Linked DNA regions of Homo sapiens: all the other regions are linked to region 1. Evidence: fine-mapped expression QTL. A gene starts in region 1. Each other region holds a variant in brackets. All regions are shown on one strand. Distances are from middle to middle. Region 1 holds the start of DMXL2 (Dmx like 2). Region 2 has its middle 83 kb from the start of GLDN. Region 3 overlaps DMXL2 (Dmx like 2). Region 4 overlaps DMXL2 (Dmx like 2).

Region 1 (5,152 bases):
CTCACACAGCACTATGGAGAGGAACACATAGGAACTGAGGCCTCCATCTATCTATTAGGCTCAACTTGCTAGCCATGAGAGCCTGCCATCTTGGAAGCAGGGCCTTTAACTTCAGTCAAGACTTCAGATGACTGTATCCCTGGCTATTTCTTTTTTAGATAGCTTTATTGAAAGTATAATTTAATTACCATACAATTCACTAATTTCAAGTATACAATTCAATGATTTCTAGTAATTTTACAGAACTGCCCAACCATGACCACAATCTAATTTTAGAATGTTTATCTCATGCCAAAAAGAAACCTCATATCCATTAGCAGTCACTCTCAGTTCCACCTTCAGCCCCAGGCAACCACTAACCTATTTTCTGTGACTGTAGATTTGTCTTTTCAGAAAATTTCATACAAATGATTTCATACAAACGAATTATGTGGTCTTTTGTGTCCAGCTTCTTTTATTTAGCATGTAGCTGACATTTTGATTGCCATCTCATGAAAGACTCTGAACCAGAACTTTCCTGCTAAGCTACTACTAAATTATTGATTCACAGAAACTGTGAGGTAATGAATCTCTACTGTTATTTTTGGCTGATAAATTTTGGGGTAATTTATTGCACAGTAATTGATAACTAGTACACATCGGTAGGTGATACTGCTGGGAAACTAAGTCCCACATTTAATGGCACACATTCAATGGGCCATTAAACCCAACCCCAAAGGTACTATTAAGAGTTGTGTTGGGATCTCAAATCAAAGCAAAAAGAAAAAAAAAAGAGTTGTGGACATGATAAATTATATCTTACAATTCGATTAGCATATTTTGTTAATGATACAAAACTGCTACTTTTTCTAATTTTTAAAAGAAAGCCCTTTCCAAAATTAGAAGAAAGAATTTCCAATTTGTTTTTAGGTCCATGAAAAAATTTGCATGAACAAGGAAGAGATGAAATTGTGGACAGTCAAAAGTGTGGTCTAGCTGCCCTGGTGGGCTACCAAGGAAACTTGCCATATTAGTCTGGAGTGAGTTTTGACTGATCAGATTGGACAATAAAAGGCTCAGCTGTAATTCCAGGAGACTTAATTAGTCATTTGCAACCTTAAGATACAGCTATCAAGAAGCCATTTAAAGGATTCATGAGGGAAGAGAACAGGTGGATACAGGCTTCAGATTTTGAGTTTGATACCGAGAGGAAGAAAGAGGCTCACAACTTCACAACTGTGTGAATGGGCCAAAACTTCATGGAATGCTGTAAAACAAGAGCCAAATGTGAAATGGTTTAAATAATGTGAATTAGTAACACTCTTGGAAACCTGAGTACAATTTGTTGTTTGATGATAGTTTTGACTTGGTTTCTAATGCAGTGAAGGTCAAAGATTAAGAGACTCATCTAGAATCTAGTAGTAACAAAAAGGAACCCTTGGATATGGCGCGGGGGAAGGGAGGAAGGGGGGGGGAGGGAAGGGGAGGGAGGGGGGAGAGAGAGAAAGAGAGAGAATGCCGCAGGTCATTAGGTATTATTTTTCATTCCTCCTGCAACTTTCTACTGAAAAGATTACCAACGACTGACAGATCTTTGCCTCCAATCTTCCCCACCCTTCCCTTTATGCTTCAAAATGCTACAAAGTCATCTTCCCAAAGCAGCTCTGATTATATAAATTTTTGCTCAGAAACATCTGATATACCCCCACTGCATGCAGAGTGAAATCTGGGCTTCTTGGAGCATTCAAGACTCTCCATAATATGTTTTGGTAGGCCAAGAGTTAGACCACTTGGATACCTTGATCTCTTGCTAAGTATTATTTACTTTCCCTACCCTATAAATCATCTGCCTCAAACATTAATCTTTGTACCTTCAACACCCCCTCTATTTTCTGTACTGTATTTGCAGCATTTCTTGTCTATCTCAGCCTGTCAAAATTAAACTCAGCGTTTATGTCAGGTTATGTCTCCATAATGCCTTATCCACGCCCTTAGTCAACATTCTTCTTCCTCTTCTGTGGTGCATAAAGACTTTTATATCTCAATCACACCACCTTTGGCGTTCTGCCTGGTTTTACAGATAGTTATGTCTTGGTGTCCCCTACTTCCTTACCCTGTGATTTAAGCATAGTATGGGTTAGAACATTTGCCATGAATTGGCCTGTGGCAGGGAGCTGATGATCCTTGTTATCAACCATTCAAAGTTTAGCAGATAGTTTGGAAAATCAGGCGATTCTGCTAATTCATGAAATTACTCATGAAAAAAAGTCGAAAGGAGTCACCCGTCTCTAAGGCGGCTTTTTGCTGTCTAGAATAACCGTGACAAAAGGTGGGAGCAAAATAATTAGCTTTCAGGGGAGTATGGCTTCTCTAAATAGTTGCAAGATGCCTACATTGTTTATGTAAAATAAAATATCTTATGTACTGCACTTTCGAAAAGACTGAAGATATCTAAGATATCTCCAGGTGGAAATTCCCGGTGACGGGTGTCCTTCTGAGGTCAACGGCACTGACCATTGCACACTGTATTCTGGAATACGTTCAACACAGCAAAACCGGCTCGTGGCGCGTCCCCGGCGTCCGACTGCTGCGTGGCCCCGAGCGACCTGCACCCCACTCGCCCCCGCCCCCACCTCCGCCCCAGTCCGCAGCGGCTACAGCCCGGGAGGCTCCAAGGGAACTCCCGCACGTCTGCGCGCGCAATCACGGGACGGCGGGTCGGCGTGGCGCGCGCAATTGCCCTGGAAACCACGGCGCGCGCACGCGCAAACGCGGGTGATGGGGGGAAGAAAGACTGAGCTGAGAGCTTTGCCGCGGGGGGAGGGCTCTACCTCGCTCCCCCGCGGTGGGCGCGCGCGCTGGCCCGCTCCCTTGCTGCACGCTCCCGGCTCGCGCGTTCCCCCCGGTGCCCTCCCCCGCCTCACAAGCACCCTTGCCCTCCCGCATTTGTGCGCCGGTGCAGCAGGCAGTGGGAACATCCGGGCATTTCCGCAGCTGAGCGGCGACCCGGGCGGCGGCGGCGGTCGAGGAGCTCCCATGGCAGGGACGAGGCGGAGGGAAGGCGAAAGGGGGGCGAGGAGTTAAGCCAGAGCCTCCGCGGGGCGGGTTTCCGAGGGAGGCACAGAGGGAAACGGCTCTCGCAGCCCGAGGAGGGTCAGGCGCGGAGCTTGTCGCACCTCCCGCGCATTCTGTCCAGCCCGGGCTCCGGAGATGCATCTGCATCAGGTCCTCACCGGAGCTGTCAACCCTGGAGACAACTGCTACTCCGTGGGCAGCGTCGGGGATGTCCCCTTCACGGTGAGCGGCGGCCGGGAGCCCTAGGGGAAGATACCAGGGGCCAGACGCGGGGGCAGGGACCTCCTGTCCAGGGCGCACGCCTCCTCAGGAGGCTGTGAGATGTTGGTGGGCCCCACCCGTGGCCCCTTTGCAGCCTTGGGGTTTAGTTCCCCCTGGGACCCGTGGGACCGTGGGTCCTGCGTCTGGTGTAGGAAATCACCCGTTAGGGGAAAGGCTTAGGAATCCACCGCACTCTCCACCCCAAGCAAACGGGCCTGAGGTGACTGGACTAGAAGGCTCCTCCTAGGGCGGCCCTTCGGTCTGCGGTGGAGGAAAGTGGTGGTGCGGCTGAAACCCCAGAGCGTCCGTTTCGCAGCTGCTCTCGGCGTGGAGGCGAAGAGACTTGGTGTTGGTCTCGGAGCGTGGAGGTGAAGAGACTTGGTGTTGGTCTCGGAGCGTGGAGGCGATGCTGCGCCTTGGCTCCCCCTGCCCGCTGTGCTAGGGCAGCGAGGAGCTGCTGGAGTCTGTGGCTTTAAGCCTGACTCTGTATCTCCTGATAATGCAGGATCTTAATTCCAACAAAAAGATAGAAAAATTCATCCTCCGCGCCCGAAAGATTTAGAATGGAAAGGTTAGAGTCACAGTGGCTTGGAGAGCTGTCTCATTTATCAGGAGGTCGTAGTTTGGTAATCCTCCTAGATAATATTTTAATCTGTAAGGTAGCCTTTTTTTTAATATAGTAAGGCAATGTGAAAAATTTACAACAGTGCTTGTTTGAGAAAAGTGTATGTATACATAACGTTTTAGAATCTCCTTAAAAGCTAGATGAAGTAGACATGTTTCTCAAGGAGATTGGACTCATCAGTCCTTTTTGAGAGTGGAAATGTTTAAACCAAGCCTTGGAGCTTCGTTTACTCATAGATAGACTCCCATAAATTGAGTTCTTTTTTAAAGAATGAAATTTATACATGGTCTTCCTTATAAGGAACTGTAGGCAGCCAGACCTTTATTAAATATATTTTGTAAACTGTTCTTCTTGATAAAACTGGAAATTCCGTAATGGTATGCTTTTTAGACAAGGAAAACCCTTTGATGTCTGCTTTCCAACAGTGTTTTTAAAACTGCGGAAAATAAAGCTTCAGCAAAACTGCAGAATCATTATGTAGCAGTGCATTCTGGAACAGAATTTATTTTTTGACGTTTTGTGATACATTAACCCCAGAAGATTGCTTTTTAGCCATTTTAATTTTTTAGTGTAATCCACTTGGCCTAGCTCCAGTTTAGAACGACCCCTTTTGTCATCTGTGTTTTATGTACATGTGACTTAAAATATTCATATAGAGCTGAGCTTTGTCTTCAAGTGTGTGGAGAATCTTGGTTTTTGGGGATAGAGAGAAGAAATTTCCCTGTTCCCCAGTAGTGCAGATAGGAAGTTCCTCAGGGTTAGAAGAGTGGGCCTCTTTCATCAAGAAACAAAGCTGGAATCTTTGGTTATATTTTCCTGCTAGAATGGTGGTGGTAGTTTTCTGCTTCCATCTAAAGTGGAGTGCTGTCTCACGGCAGGTCTGGTATGTAGAACTAAATAAACGGGTTCAGATGCAGCCTGGAAAAGCCTGTGTAAGAACTGTTAGTGCTGTGCAGGTGTGGTTATGCTGTAGGCCACTTGTGACCAGATGCTTAGAGTCATTTTCAAATCTTCTTGCACTTCCCTAATTCAGCGTTTCACGAAGTCTAGTTGACTCTGCACTGTCTACCAGATTTACTCCTTTTCATATCCTTAACCACCACCTTATTTTACAATCTTATTGGTATTAATATAAAAGCTTTCAAAACTGTCATGTCCGATAACTTCTTCATCCTCCACACCGCTGCTAGGATAATTTTCTTCAAGTGTCAT
Region 2 (5,152 bases), 200 kb after region 1:
TATTTAAAAGGCCTTCATGTTTTTTTATTCTCTCCTAGGGCCTTGTCCTTGTTTTGAGCAAAAGTTTTTTTCTTCTAGTTGACTGAATTCTGTTTTCTCCATATACTTCTGCTGTCTCTTCTTTCTCTTGCACCCTCTGCTGCATGAGGGAACTAAAATAATTTATAATAGCCTGGGGTTCCTTAAAGAAAATGGAGAAGGTACCAGACTCCCTTTCGGGGAGGAACCTGTTTTTCTTTATGGAACCCCAAGATTGTGAATAGACAAGTTCATCTCAGCTTTTAAGCTGCTTTTGTATTGTGTTACCTGATTAACTAAAGTAATTATTGCAACAGAGGCTATACTTGGGTTTTTAAATTAGAGTGTAATATAGACACTTAGAAATGCCTTTGTTTAAAAAATTTTAAGTGCATTGTAACATCATGTGATCTAGCCTCATAACGATTCTCCCTTTTTGGAAACCCACGATTCAGTGTGGGTTCTGCCTAAAGTTTAGAGATATAGTTAAAAGATAGGTAGTCCCTGGCCGGGCGTGGTGGCTCACGCCTGTAATCCCAGCACTTTGGGAGGCCGAGGCAGGCAGATCACGAGAGGTCAGGAGAGCAAGACCATCCTGGCTAACACAGTGAAACCCCGTCTCTACTAAAAAATAGAAAAAAATAGCTGGGCGTGGTGGCAGGTACCTGTAGTCTCAGCTACTTGGGAGGCTGAGGCAGGAGAATGGCATGAACCTGGGAGGCAGCGCTTGCAGTAAGCCGAGATCGCGCCACTGCACTCCACCTGGGTGACTCAGCGCGACTCCGTCTCAAAAAAAAAAAAAAAAAAAAAAAAAAAAAAAAAAAAAAAAAAAAAAAAAGATAGGTAATCCCTGTCTAAATATAATTGGTCTCCTTTTACAATCATATGATAGATTTTTATAATTTTATGTTTGATTTGACATCCATCTTTAATCTCCCTCTAGCACACCAGTTTTTCTCTCTGTACCTTATGATGTAAATTTTGCTATTTGATTTTCACCTTGTTTCCTTTAATATGCAAATTTAAGGCTATTTACCTGACAACTGCCTAGGGTTGTGAAAGAGGTTATGAAGAATCTGAAAGTCTAAGATAGAGGGAAAAAGGTTTTTATGAATCTATAAATTGTACTTTTATCGGCATTCCTAATACATCTATGTATTTAAGTGTTGTGTACACAATGTTTCACTACTGAAAATATATAGAAGAGCTCTAATTGGCTTTAAAAAATAAAAGTGCCTAAATCAAATACTTTATCTTAAAGGAAAAACTGGTCAAATCCTTTTTCAAATTTACATGACTTAAGTAAAATCTTAATAAGCTAGCTTTAAAATTATTGATCAATATCGGAAATGTCTTAAGAATTGCCAGCAGATGTATTTGTTTACATTTATTAATCAAGCAGTTTCATACTTATCCTTGCCAAATATTATAAGGTATCAACATTTGGCATAAGGGTTACAAAACTATCAACAGCCCCAAACAGAATGATCTTTGCTTGTGTAATTTTTAATAAGACATTAATATTGGTTTAATGAAAATAGCTACATCTTGAATTTAGTAAAATTATCTTAACTTCTAATCCTGTGGCCTTAGGCAGTCGAGTACACAGGCAGTAAGGTGGTTTGCCTTGGGAAAGGACTGTTATCCTTTTTGTATCAAGCTAAACTATAAACTAAGCCCTTCTCAAAGTTAGTTTGGCCTATATCCAGGAATGAACAATGACAGCTTGAGGTTAGAAGCAAGACAGTCATTTAGGGCAGATCTTTTTCACTGTCTCAGTTATAATTTTGCAATGACAGTTTCATAGCTTTATTTATAAAAACTGCATAGTCATCATTTAATCTAAGTAAATGATTAAAATAATTAGGTAAATGTATGGGATAAATACTTGTAGATAAACTTGTTATAGTTTAGAATCTAAGGTTATATTAAATAACATATTTCATTATTTGAGTATTTTCCTACACAAATATATTGTAGAAAAACATTCTTACTAAAAAAAGTGTCCTTTTAAAAAGGCAAATAATTTTTGTCTAATTCAAAGCTGATTTAAAGGTTATATATGAAACAAGTTAAAAGGAACCAGGAAATATGAAAGATGTAAAGAAAATTATAAAAGTAAAGAGTTTTGGTGGGTAAGAAAGCTTAAAGATCGATAATTTTATGTAAGAACAAAATATTGTATGGTAAATTTAGTCCCAGAATAAAATGACTGGTTAAGAAAGAAGATTGTTCAGGACAAACCAGAAAGTCTAACCATGTCATGAATGGTCTATGTAAATCACAATAAGAGGATTTATTTAAAAAAACCAAAAACTTATAAGATCAAGTTGTTTTTCATTAAAAAAAAGTATAATGGTCATTCTAGAGATTGGGCCTGATGTAAAAAAAATTTAGTTGAGGTTAT[T/C]ACATCTGTGTATCTTTCTGTACATGCTTTTAAAGTCCTTGTTACAGTGAGTTACAGGGCTTTGACCCCTGGGTCTAAAAAGGACATCAAGTCCTGCCAAATCTTAAACACTGACAGCAATTAAATCCTCACCTTCAGGCCCCACAGAGGATGTCAATCAAAACAAACTGCATTCCTATGGTGACGTCAATCAAAATAAACAGCATTCCTAAGACACAGGGCCAGAAATTAAAGCTATTCAACTCAAGGCCCAGGGGCATCATGGAAGAAGTGGGCACAGAAGATTGTAAGGGCCAATTTTGAAAGATAACTTCAGTTTCTCTATTATATAGAAATCATTAATGTCAAAGGCACTCTGATGCAAGACCAGTGTATGGGCCCCTGTGTCAGATTAACAAGGTTTTCTTGAAGCATTAACCAACTTCTTAATAAAGGATATAAATGTTATAAAAGGCTTATGGAAGTTGTTTCTTATGGTCAAGATTAAAATTTTATAGGTAGTTTATAAAATTTTGAAAAACAAATTTAATTGGCTGCATGCTGTTTTTATTAGGGCTTATTGTTTGGAAAATTAAGTCTCCTCCAAAAAAAATGAAGGTTTTTGCCTTTTAAAAAAAACCCTTGAGTTATTACTTTGGTTAAATGAATGATCCTATTTTGTGATAACAAGAGTTTTAAACCTTTGATAGTTGAAAACTTTCCAAGATCAAATTATAAATTATGTCTTTTTCTGGCCTAATTAATCCTTTAAGATATTAGGTTCCCAAAAGTCCTAAAATGACATAGTTTGGCTTATTTGGTATAAAATTGTACAGGAAACATTGTCAAATATGAAATGGTGTTTGGTTTTCTTTGAGCTGTATTTGTATAGTTATGTTATTGGTATGTGTTCCAAAATTACGGGAAACTCCTATAATTCTGATATAATACAGTATACATTATCAGTAATAATTATGTTAAATTATTGTGTGCCATAGAGGTAACAAATTTTCTTGTCAATTGTGTGTTTGACTATGGCTGCCCTAAATCTTTTTGTCATCCATGGACAACTGTCATCTTGTTTTAGTCCTCTTTGGGAGGTGGTTTTATAATCAGCTATAAAATTCTAACAGGTACTCTGAAATGCAGGTTTCTGATAACTTTGGAGATTGTGACATCAGAATAGAGGCAAAAACTTTCAGGACTCATGGAGAGCTGAAATGTTCATGAATATCAAGCAGTACAGGAATTAACTGCATGAACTAAACTAATACAAGTCTAAAAGTAGTAATCTTTTTAACTTTTTGCTTAAAACGTTGTTGATCCTTTGTTTTTCTGAGTCAAGAAAACTTTTCTTCTAAGCTATTTACAGCTTTTAGTAATTAAAGTATACCCCTATAAACAAAATTTGGAGCATATTTGTTTCTCTCTACCTGATTTCTACAATATTTGAAAACCATGTGTGAGTATTCTTAAGACAATACCATTATTCACATAAGTGCAATAACAATCGGTTTTCATTTGTAACAGGACACAATTGGAGAAAGTGGTTATTACCAAGGCTGTGACTGGAATGGTGTGCTTTCCTTGAAGGAATCAAACTTGACTTACAATTCCAATGAAGGTCCCTTGGAAAAACTGGCCTCATATCTTTATCTACACAGTCCCTGTACAGGGTTCCTGACTGTGGTAAGTAAAAAATGTCACTATTTGACAGGCCCAGGGGCTCCAAGTTTATCAAGAAACTTGAAGAGGAGAGGAGTTCACCCAACTTATAAGTACTTCATGGTACAAATCTATGGCTGCGCTGGGCTTTAAAAAAAAGTCTTGTCTGAGATTCCTACCATGGAACAAGGTTCCATCAAAGCCAATTTAAAAGCCTATGTAAAAAATAATTATTCTTGGGGAGGAGCCAAGATGGCCGAATAGGAACAGCTCCGGTCTACAGCTCCCAGCGTGAGCGACGCAGAAGACGGGTGATTTCTGCATTTCCATCTGAGGTACCGGGTTCATCTCACTAGGGAGTGCCAGACAGTGGGCGCAGGCCAGTGTGTGTGCGCACCGTGCGCGAGCCGAAGCAGGGCGAGGCATTGCCTCACCTGGGAAGCGCAAGGGGTCAGGGAGTTCCCTTTCCGAGTCAAAGAAAGGGGTGACGGACGCACCTGGAAAATCGGGTCACTCCCACCCGAATATTGCGCTTTTCAGACCGGCTTAAGAAACGGCGCACCACGAGACTATATCCCACACCTGGCTCAGAGGGTCCTACGCCCACGGAATCGCGCTGATTGCTAGCACAGCAGTCTGAGATCAAACTGCAAGGCGGCAACGAGGCTGGGGGAGGGGCGCCCGCCATTGCCCAGGCTTGCTTAGGTAAACAAAGCAGCCGGGAAGCTCGAACTGGGTGGAGCCCACCACAGCTCAAGGAGGCCTGCCTGCCTCTGTAGGCTCCACCTCTGGGGGCAGGGCACAGACAAACAAAAAGACAGCAGTAACCTCTGCAGACTTAAGTGTCCCTGTCTGACAGCTTTGAAGAGAGCAGTGGTTCTCCCAGCAAGCAGCTGGAGATCTGAGAACGGGCAGACTGCCTCCTCAAGTGGGTCCCTGACCCCTGACCCCCGAGCAGCCTAACTGGGAGGCACCACCCAGCAGGGGCACACTGACACCTCACACAGCAGGGTATTCCAACAGACCTGCAGCTGAGGGTCCTGTCTGTTAGAAGGAAAACTAACAACCAGAAAGGACATCTAC
Region 3 (5,152 bases), 69 kb after region 1:
CACTGTGTCATCATAAATATAATGTTTACTGTTGATGTTTGTGGTAGATACTTTTTTTTCAGATAAAGAAACTTTCCTTCTATTTGTTGTTTGCTAGATTGTTTTTCTAAACCACAAACGATATAGAATTTTAGGAAGCATTTTTTCTGCATCTAATGAGACAATTTTTATCTTTTTTTTTTGGAGACAGAATCTCGCTCTGTCACCCAGGCTGGAGTCCAGTGGCACAATCTCAGCTCACTGCAATCTCAGCTTCCCAGGTTCAAGTATTTCTCCCATTTCAGCTTCCCAAGTAGCTGGGACTACAGGCACCCATCACCATGCCGGTTAATTTTTGTATTTTTGGTAGAGATGAAGTTTCACCATTTTGTCCAGGCTGGTCTCGAACTCCTGACCTCAGATGATCCACCTGCCTCGGCCTCCCATACTGCTGGGATTACAGGCATGAGCCACTGTGCCCGGCCATCTTTTTAATTTTTTAATAAGATGAAATACATGGACTGATTTTGTAAACCTTGTATTCCTGGAACAATCCCAACTTCATTATAATGTGTTATCCTTGCTGGATTTGATCTGCTGATCTTTTTTTTTTTTTTTTTCTTTTTTTTTTTTGAGACAGTGTCTCGCTCTGTCACCCAGGGTGGAGTGCAGTGGCGCGATCTCGGCTCACTGCAAGCTCTGCCTCCTGGGTTCACGCCATTCTCCTGCCTCAGCCTCCCAAGTAGCTGGGACTACAGGCGCCCGCCACCACGCCCAGCTAATTTTTTGTATTTTTAGTAGAGACGGGGTTTCACCGTGTTAGCCAGGATGGTCTCGATCTCCTGACCTCGTGATCCACCTGCCTTGGCCTCCCAAAGTGCTGGGATTACAGGCGTGAGCCACCGCGCCCGGCCTGATCTGCTGATCTTTTGTTTAAGATTTATGTGTTAGAGTGAGATTCGGCCAATAATTTTCCCGTTTTCATAATGTCCTTGACAGATTTTTATGTTGATGTTATGCTGGCCTTATAAATGGGTTGGAAAGCTCTCTTTTGTGAAGAGTTTATGTAAGATTGATATAGTTTTATTCTTAAGTATTTGCTGGTGAAGCCATCTGGATCAGGAATTTTCTTTGTAGGATTCAGTTTTTTAAATTATTCAGATTTTCTTTTTCTTTTGTATGTCAGTTTTGGTAAGTTGTATTTACCTATGATTTTTCAGTTTTATTTAGATTTTCAAATTTATTAGCACAAAATTGTGTAAAACACCTTATCTTTTAATATCTATAATACATGTATAGTGATTTCTTCTTCAGTTTTGATATTATTTATGCCTTCCCTCTTTCTTCATTCATCTCACCAAGAGTTTATCAATTTTGTAGGTCTTTTTACTGCCCTAAAAGTCTTCTGTACTCTGCCTGTTTTTAACTCTGGCTACCCCTGCTTAGTTGTTACTGTTATCTTTTCTACTTTTAAATGTTGGAGTGCCCAGGGCTCTTCTAGTCTTAAGATTTCTGATGCCATTTAAATGCCATTTTTGTATGCTGATGACATTCAACTTTGTATTTTTTGCCTGTACCTCTTCCCTGATCTCTACTTCCCTAACCCCTCAATCTACTCCCTGATGGCTCACCTTTAGAATATATCCACAATCTGCTTACTTCTTTACCACCTCCACTCTTATAATCTGGTTGAAGCCACCATTATTTATCACTTGTATTATTGTATTAAATTTTTAATTGGTTTCCCAATTTTTGCTGCACTTCTGTACAATCTATGTTCAAACCAGCAGGTGGAGTGATTTAAAAAATTGTTTTTTTGAGACAGAGTCTCTCACTGTCGCCTAGGCTGGAGTGCTGTGGCGCAATCTTGGCTCACTGCAACCTCTGCCTCCTGGGTTCAAGCAATTCTTGTGCCTCAGCCTCCCAAGTGACTGGGATTACAAGCGTGTGCCACCACACCTGGCTAATTTTTGTATTTTTAGTAGAGACGGAGTTTCGTCATGATGGCCAGGCTGGTCTCGAACTCCTGGCCTCAAGTGATCTGCCCACCTTGGTCTCCCAAAGT[G/T]CTGGGATTATGGGTGTGAGCCACTGTTCCTGGCCTGGAGTGATCTTTTTAAAATGTTGTCAGATCTTGTCACTCTTCTTTTGTACAAAACCGTCAAAAGCTTTTCCATTTCATTTACCAAAAGACCAAGTCTTCGTGATGGTTTAGCATGCTCCATGCTTACCAGGACTCTCGTCACTGCTTCAACCTCATCTTCTGCTAACTCTCACCCCTGCACACTCCACTCCATCTAATTTGCCTCATTGTTTTTAAACTAGATTTTAAAAATAAAACACTGAAATTTTGATAAGCCAGTTCAATAATCTACAAATAATAAAACAGTATTTCTGGATAGAAATGTAGAGACACGTGAAGAATTTTCTGTAATGTCTTGAGAAGCGTGGGTATCTCATGAAGGGTACACTTGTCAGAATCACTGGAAAAACAGTTTGAGAAATAATATAATTCATGTCTTTTTTTCCTTTTTAATTTTATTTTACGTAATTCATGTCTTGATCTCTAAAACAGGCAGTCACCTTTAAAACTTTGGATCTTTAAAAACAAATACCCCATTACTCCTAAAATTTGACTGAAAAAACTCACAGATTTGTCTTTTTTTTGTTACTCATATTTCTTAGGATTACCACGTTAATAAGTGATTAATAAAGCCAGTCATTCCTTTGACTTAACAAATCCATAATAGGTGAACCTATGGATGATTTAATATAGGACCAGTTCAGCATGTCAGAGAGCTGCTGGAGAGTCATACTGGAATCCAGCTTTATGATATTCCCAGTTAATCATTGCTGATGTCAGCTTGGATATTGTACACACTGTGCATCATTTGGAGCATGTTTTCCTATTGCCTCCTTTTAAATATCGTTAATGGCACTATGATCATGGATAGGTATTGTATACACTTAAGTTTTCCTTGACTCATGTACAGTTAACCCTTGAACAACATGGCAGTTAGGTGATCCAACCCCCTGCACAGTCAAAAATCCCTGTCTAACTTTTGAGTCTCCAGAAACTTAATTACTAATAGTCTACTATTGACTGGAAGCTTTTCCAATAAAATAAACAATAAATTAACACATTTTGTATGTTATAGGTATTGTATACTCTACTCTTTTTTTTTTTTTAAACCCTGCATGTGGCATCCAATATGTGCTATACTCTTTTAAGGAAGAGAAGAAAAATGTTACTAAGAAAACCTTAAGGAAGAGAAAATAAATTAACCGTTCATTAAGTGGATGTAGATGGTCATAAGGTCTTCATCCTCATCATTTTCACATTTAGTAGGTGAGAGAGGAGGAAGAAGAGGAGGGGTTGGTCTTGCTGTCTTGGGTGGCAGAGGCAGAAGAAAATTCACGTGTAAGTGGACCTGTGCAGTTCAAACCCATGTTATTGAAGGGTCAACTGTACTTTAACATATATATTGTTTGATTTTTTTTTATCATATAACGGGGCAAAGAAAATGCATTTTAGAATTCTAGCAATCTGCACTTGTGAGACACATGAGAATCTTTTATAGTTGTATTCATATCATAATAGACTTTATATACGTAAAATTGATAGTGCATTTTGGACAAAAAGTTGATTTGAAATTATATCTGAAATTAACAACCTTCATTCACATGTTTAGCAGATATTCTTTTGAACACCACCATATACCCTGAACTGTTGTGTGTGCTGGCAGTCTTATGATGAAGATGATAGACAAGGCTTTTGTTCTTATAGGACTTAATTTCTGGTGAGGAAAGACAGAAAAAAATATCAAGTATTAACAAGTGCTGTCCAGAAAATTAAGACAGGATGATATAGTAGTGTGATTGGGTGTCTGTTAGAGTGAGTGATCTATAGAGAAAGCTTTGCTGAGGAGATAACCTTTAAACTGAGAATTGAATACTACGAAGGAGACAACTGTGAAGTTCAGGGGAAAGAGTGTTTTTGGCCAAGGGAACAAACACCAAGTGCAAATGCTCTGAAATAGGAATTAGCAGGGCTTGTTAAAGAGCAACAGAAAGCTGGAGTGTAGTGGTTAGACCAAAGTTTGAGATGCATCTGAGTTAACATATCAGATAGGATAAGACAGTCAGGAGTTCTCTGGCAATTTGAATTCTTTAGCCAAAGGCGGTGTTTAAAGTTATGGGTCTGGATGAAATTAACTAGGGAGAACGTGTGTATTAGAGAAGAGAATGGGACTCAGGATCAAATCCCAGGATCCTCAAACATTAAGAAATGATAGAGAGAGGGGAGATACCTACAAAGGATGCTGGGAAGGAGTAACCACTGAAATAAAACGAAAACCAGGAGAATGTGACATTAGAGAAGCCAAGAAAAAAGGTTCAAGGAGGGAATGTCAGTTAATTTTGTCAAAAGACCTAGAACACATGGGAGAACAGTTAAACATCTGTAGATAGTACAGGCCTAACTGTGCGTAAATTAAAGCAAAGAAACTTTTGTGGAATCATAAAGTTTTAATGATCTTAGTGATCACAGAAGCAGCTAAGGTTTTTGAAGTCCATGTCTCTGCCCTCCACTGCCACTACCTGTGTCAGCATCTTCGGGGCTGCAGACCTTTACAGTAGTCTCTTAAGTGATGTCCTGCAAACATCCTCTGATTGGTCTGCCCACAGGAGCCAGCCACCTGAACATGCCGTTCTCCTTTTCACCACCTTTTAATGACTCCTATTGCTCCTAAAATGAAGATTATGATCTTTACCATGGCCTGTGAGGCTCTGCTGTATGATCTGGCCCTTCCGTGCCTCTCCAGCTTCATTCCCACCTTAATGCCTACGACACTGATGTCCTTTCAAGGCCTTGAATATGCCAAGCTCTTTCCTGCTTCCACGTCTTTTTATGTGCTGTTCCCTCTGTCTAGGGAATACCTACAATACCCAGACTTCCTTATTCTTTACCTGGTCGTCTTTTATGTATCCTTCAACTCTCAGTTTAAATACCACTTGCTTAAGAAATCCTCTGATCTCCCAGGCAAGGTCAAGTCTCCTTATTAAATACTTTCCTGGTGCCCTCTGCTTCTTTCTTATAGTGCTTATCACAATTGTAATTAAAACAATAATTTATATCCTTACTTAATGTTGCCTTCCTTTCTAAAGAATAAGCTCT
Region 4 (5,152 bases), 160 kb after region 1:
TTTGTTCTTCAAATTATTAAAATTAATGATTTATCACAAGTATGTTTTAAGTATTGGTAAGGTTGATAGCAGCTTGACTGGTTGACTTGTCAGAGTGTAGAGTGCTGTGGGAAGCCAGGTGTCTGGGTTTCTTGGACCCTCCCATTCTCGTCTTGCCCTTCCCCACGAGTTTGCTTCTTCCTTAACTAATTCTCCCCCTCTCCGCCCCTTAGTCTCCCTTCCATTATGCCCCTCAGTCTCTGTGTGTTCTATTTTTCTTCCAGCAGTGGGTCCCCATGAACAGGGAAGTAGGACAGAGATAAACGGAATGTTTCTTAAAGTGCTATATAAGCATCAGTTGGCTCCAAGGAAGGGAAGTACATGGCTGGGAGTTAGGATGGAAGAATTTTTATCATGTACCCTTTTAATTTTAAAACATTGAATGGAATTACTGTCTTGTCCAGTACTGTCCCATAGAACTTTCTGTGATGATGGAAATCTGTATCTGCATAGTCCAACATAGTAGTCACCAGCCACATGTGGTTACTGAGTACTTGAAATGTGGCTAGCATGATTGAGAAACTGAATTTTAATTTTAATTGATCTAAATTTAAATAGTTACATATGGTTAGTGATTGCTGTTTTGAATAGCTCAGATCTGAAAAAAAAGGTGTTTTATTAAGAAAAAAATTATGAATAAAACATTAAGGCTGTTAGGACAAAATAAAAACTCGTCGTTAGGCTCAGAAATATGCAAAACTTACTAAAACTCTACCCAATCCAGTAAGAGTGCTTACATCTTTAAAATTGTCAAATAGGATTTTGGTAATCACTAAATTTGGCAAATTCAGAAAATTGACCAATAAAATTGGCAGGCTAATCCTAAAAATGCTGGGTGCATTTAAAAAAAATCCCTGAGAAATGCTGAAGTTATATATTTATAAGAATAAGATCTTTTATTCACTGAAGATATTACAGGAAAATATTTCACAAAACAAGTTTTTGGGAAACAGATTGGTGAATTCAGCTAGTTAAGACAAATAGATTCTTCAGCAGTTTGGCCTTCACTGAGTTAGCTGTGCCACACATTGACCATTCCTTGGAAGTTTTCTTGGATGCATCTTTATCAGCTGCAGCAGCCATAGGGGAGTCCCTGGAGGCATGGGCAGAAAATTTGAATGGCCCTTCGTGATGAAAGGAAGGCAGTCACCTGAAAAGGTATGAGGAAGAGTTTGTTTCTCTGATCAAACCTTCAGAGTTTCCACAGCAGAGCAGAAATATAACTTCTGATTGCAGCCATCCTTAGGACCCTGCATCAACCCGGGAGCAAATTACTGAGTTATTTCTTTTTCCGTGCCTGATTTTATTAAACATTTATTTACTTAGAGAAAAATCATCATATTCCTTATAAGAGTGAAATAATTATCAATATTTTGAATCTATGTTTAGAAATAAATATTTTAATTTGTATTTTAAATCAACCCCTATAGGGCAGGAATTTATGTAGCATCTTCTGCATCTGCTTATACAAATGGGCTTTAATTTTATAGATTACCAGTTATGTAACTTAGATTTCTTAAAACTGTATACAGATAACTAATTTTTATTTTGAAATAGCTTTTATGTTCTTGTGTTTATGTAATAGTCACATTAATTTTGCTCTTTTGGCTTTGTGTTGTGTTTATTTGATGACTGTTTTATTCGGTTTAATTTTTTCTTGATTTTGCAAATTCATTTTTATCATCTTTAAGTGGTGGAGTGGCCATTTCAGCTTGAAATATTTCACTGTCTTTATAATTTCATTCCATGCATGTGTTTTGTGTTTGTGACGGTGTGGTGGTATTTAGTCTATAGAAGAACATGTGGAGCAGGTCAACCAAAACTGCATAGCAGAAGATTGCCACATCAAGGTAGTATTCCAAGATCTTGTATTTAGCTCATTCTTTAAAGTTCAAGGAGCTAACGCCTCATCTCTGATACTAACCATGACCTGCCCAACTGGCTAACTACTCAGAGAACTCATAGTACTCCCATACCACTTCAGTGGCACAGGGGAGGAGATGCTTCACTGTATCTGGCTTGCTCTGTCTTGCCCTTGGTTCTTCTCTTTCTTGCTCCCTGTCCCATCTTCACTTGTCACTTTTTCTGTTTTAAGCATGGCTGTTTCATCTTCTTGATTCTGCCTTTTCTTTCCTTCCCATCACCAACCCTAAGCCATTGCATCTTCCTCTCATCAGTCTCTTTTATTCCTTTCGAAGTATCCCTCTTT[A/C]CAACTTTTCCTTATTTCTGTCTCACCACCCTTACTTCAAAGGGTGGTTTCTTTGCGGTTTTCTATGGCTTTTTACTCCACTCTGTGCCTCTTAATGTATACACATTCTTATTGCAGAATATTTATGCACTTTTGGAAGAGCTAAGAGAGACATACTACTGTATAAATTACTAATAAAAATATATTAGCCATGTTTTATAATTAATCAGTATCTTACCATCACAGTGGAAATTGGGGTGATTACAGGACATCAGAGAATTTAAGCAAATTTTCCAAAGCTAGTTTTCAACACATTAAAGTTACTCTTACCCTTTTTTCTTGCTGCTGCTGCTGCTGCTGCTGCTACATTTTCTTCTTATCCTACATTTAAATCTTATGGGATGTGCATAACTCTAAATAGAGCTGTGCTGCAGCAACTAAAACTGCTGATGAATGTTTTCTAGGTTGAAGCTGATCTGGGCTATCCAGGTGGAAAGGCGAAAGTCATCCATAAGGAATCTGATATGATCATGGCATTTTCTGTTAATAAGGTAAAAGCTCTCATCATTATACACAGTGTATTTCTCCTTAGTGAAATTGCTTAAATCATCGATTCTGCCTTTGCTTTATAGGCAAATTGTAATGAAATTGTTTTGGCTTCAACACATGATGTTCAAGAACTTGATGTTACTTCTCTACTGGCCTGTCAGTCATACATATGGATCGGAGAAGAATATGACAGAGAATCCAAAAGGTTTGTCTCATAGTCACTTTTACATATAGTTTTCTGTAAGAAGTACCCACCAAATGGTTATGCACATGATTTGAATTATTTCAAAAGGTATACGTGTATCTCCTTCATTTGGGTAGGTGACAAATATAATTGGTTTAGCTGCCAGTGAAAGTCTTTGTCTACATTAACTGAATGAATTACACTTCCATTAAACCCTACACTATTGATAATATTTCAATAAGGATAATCCCTAACACTTGGCTTCATGATATTCAGTAAATTAATCTGATCTGGATAATTAAAACAGTAGACACAAATATGTTAATTACACTGAGTCACATTTACCGAGTAATTTTGCAGTGTTTCTTCTTATCACCTGATAAGCATACCTTTTCTTAAACATAAAAATGTAGACGGCTTTACTTTTCATTGAAGCTATGGACACTGCACCAAGAGTGTTTTGCCATTCTTACCTATTTTGAGGTTTCTTCTTTGTGGTTTGCCTTCCCTCCTGCTTTTCTCCAGACTCTTAGAAATTGTTCATGCTTGAGGATGGTGCCATGATAGTTTCTCTCCTCATTTTGTTGAATTCTTTTTTTTGTTAGTATGTGATATAACTAGGATTTAATATCACATTTCAGAGTAGATATAACCATGTACTATGATACAATCCATCCCAACAATTACTTTCACATTTTATATGTCTTACTCCAAGAAATCTTTAAACTCAAATTTCTTTAAACGTGTTAATTTGATACTGAGCTATCTGTACTTGAAGAGAACATAATATTTTTCCATAGATAACAACAAACTTTTGTTTCAACTTGTGCAGCAATAAAGTTGTCCCCAAACAACATTAGACTAAATTTACATTTTGCCAAAAGGGAAAAAAGTTAACCAGTATTAACATTGGCGATTAGGACTTGTACCTAAGTTTTTCTCATGGCTACTTAGTTTTTAAAATAAAGATTGTCCTATGGGTACATAAGAAGATTTTTAGTTGGAATTTGTGTTAAGAGAAAAGGGAATGTTCACAGTAACACATGAATGTTTTTCACAGTTCAGATGATGTTGATTATCGTGGTTCCACTACAACTCTTTATCAACCCAGTGCAACATCCTATTCAGCAAGTCAGGTGCATCCACCTTCATCTCTGCCATGGCTGGGCACTGGACAGACTAGCACTGGAGCTAGTGTGGTATGTTATTTACTTATAGGTATCATTTCTGGATTTGGACTCTGAAAAATCAGTTGGAATCTCTTTGACATAGGAATGATCCTAAATTTCAGGGACAAACACCAGTAGATAGGCCATGATAATGACAGCTGACATTTATTGTGGCTTTTTTATTTGGTGACAGGGTCTGGCTCTGTCGCGCAGGCTGGAGTGCAGTGGTGCAATTTCGGCTCACTGCAGCCTTGACCTCCTGGGCTCAATTGATCCTTCCATCTCAACCTCCCAAGTAGCTGGGACTACAGGTGCATGCCAGCGTGCCTGGCTAATTTTTGTATTTTTTGTAGGGATGGGGTTTCACCACGCTGCCCAGGCTGTTCTCGAACTCCTGGGCTCAAGTGATCTACCCGCTTCAGCCTCCCAAGGTGCTAGGATTACAGGCATGAGCCACCACACTGGCCTCATATGACTTTCTTAGTGTCAGATACATGCTTTTTCTCACAACAATCCTAGGTGGTAGGTGCTATTATTACCCTCCATTATCATTTTACAGATGAATAAACAGATACAAAATGGTAAAGCAAAGTTAAAGGGGAATTCATGTCTACTTCTAAGTGCTTGAAAGCATGTCAGTAACATTCTTGTCACTGTAGCTGGAGGGGTCCCATTCTTATGTTCTGCTCTGAAGCATCTGGAGGTGCTCCTGAATATCCTCAGGGAGGGGCACTTGAAGAAGAGTTCCTTTATTATGAGATGAAGCTCCTTGGTAACCTCACAGGCCAGGGCTATACCAGCAAGTGACTGTGCTTCCTCACCCTCTTCAGACAAGTGTTCTATGTAGTGGTTCAGAACATCCATAACAGGCTTTATCTCAGTAATAAGCAAGGTGTAAGAGAATAAATGTCAGAATTTATCCTGAAGCATATCCTTCCTCATCTTTTCTGCATACACAAAATAAAATTTTTAAAATTTTCTTTTAAAGCTTATGAAAAGGAATCTACATAATGTTAAGAGAAT

Evidence for each region. PIP is the estimated chance that this variant, and not a neighbour inherited with it, causes the effect. A credible set is the group of variants that fine-mapping cannot tell apart.
Region 2: its variant is the best candidate, but not a certain one, in a credible set for the expression of DMXL2 in lung (TOPMed, PIP 0.58).
Region 3: its variant is the best candidate, but not a certain one, in a credible set for the expression of DMXL2 in whole blood (TOPMed, PIP 0.50).
Region 4: its variant is the best candidate, but not a certain one, in a credible set for the expression of DMXL2 in whole blood (INTERVAL, PIP 0.79).

What each region holds. Positions count from the first base shown.
Region 1 is chr15:51,620,583-51,625,734 of GRCh38, reverse strand. DMXL2 (Dmx like 2) reads left to right here and starts at 2,964. Exons shown (of 44, transcript NM_001378457.1): 1 at 2,964-3,276. The coding sequence starts at 3,190. LOC105370816 (a long non-coding RNA gene) reads left to right here. Exons shown (of 5, transcript XR_932236.3): 4 at 449-560; 5 at 910-1,051. RefSeq lists a silencer at 2,827-3,046 and an enhancer at 3,417-3,826.
Region 2 is chr15:51,422,402-51,427,553 of GRCh38, reverse strand. No RefSeq gene overlaps it. Among named protein-coding and RNA genes, the nearest start is that of GLDN, 83 kb to the right of the region's middle. The variant T/C (reference allele first, on the strand shown) is at 2,426.
Region 3 is chr15:51,551,803-51,556,954 of GRCh38, reverse strand. The region is part of intron 6 of DMXL2 (Dmx like 2); the gene reads left to right. Among named protein-coding and RNA genes, the nearest start is that of DMXL2, 68 kb to the left of the region's middle. The variant G/T (reference allele first, on the strand shown) is at 2,045.
Region 4 is chr15:51,456,335-51,461,486 of GRCh38, reverse strand. It overlaps DMXL2 (Dmx like 2), which reads left to right. Exons shown (of 44, transcript NM_001378457.1): 34 at 1,827-1,889; 35 at 2,692-2,778; 36 at 2,860-2,981; 37 at 4,021-4,159; 38 at 5,118-5,152. Among named protein-coding and RNA genes, the nearest start is that of GLDN, 120 kb to the right of the region's middle. The variant A/C (reference allele first, on the strand shown) is at 2,249.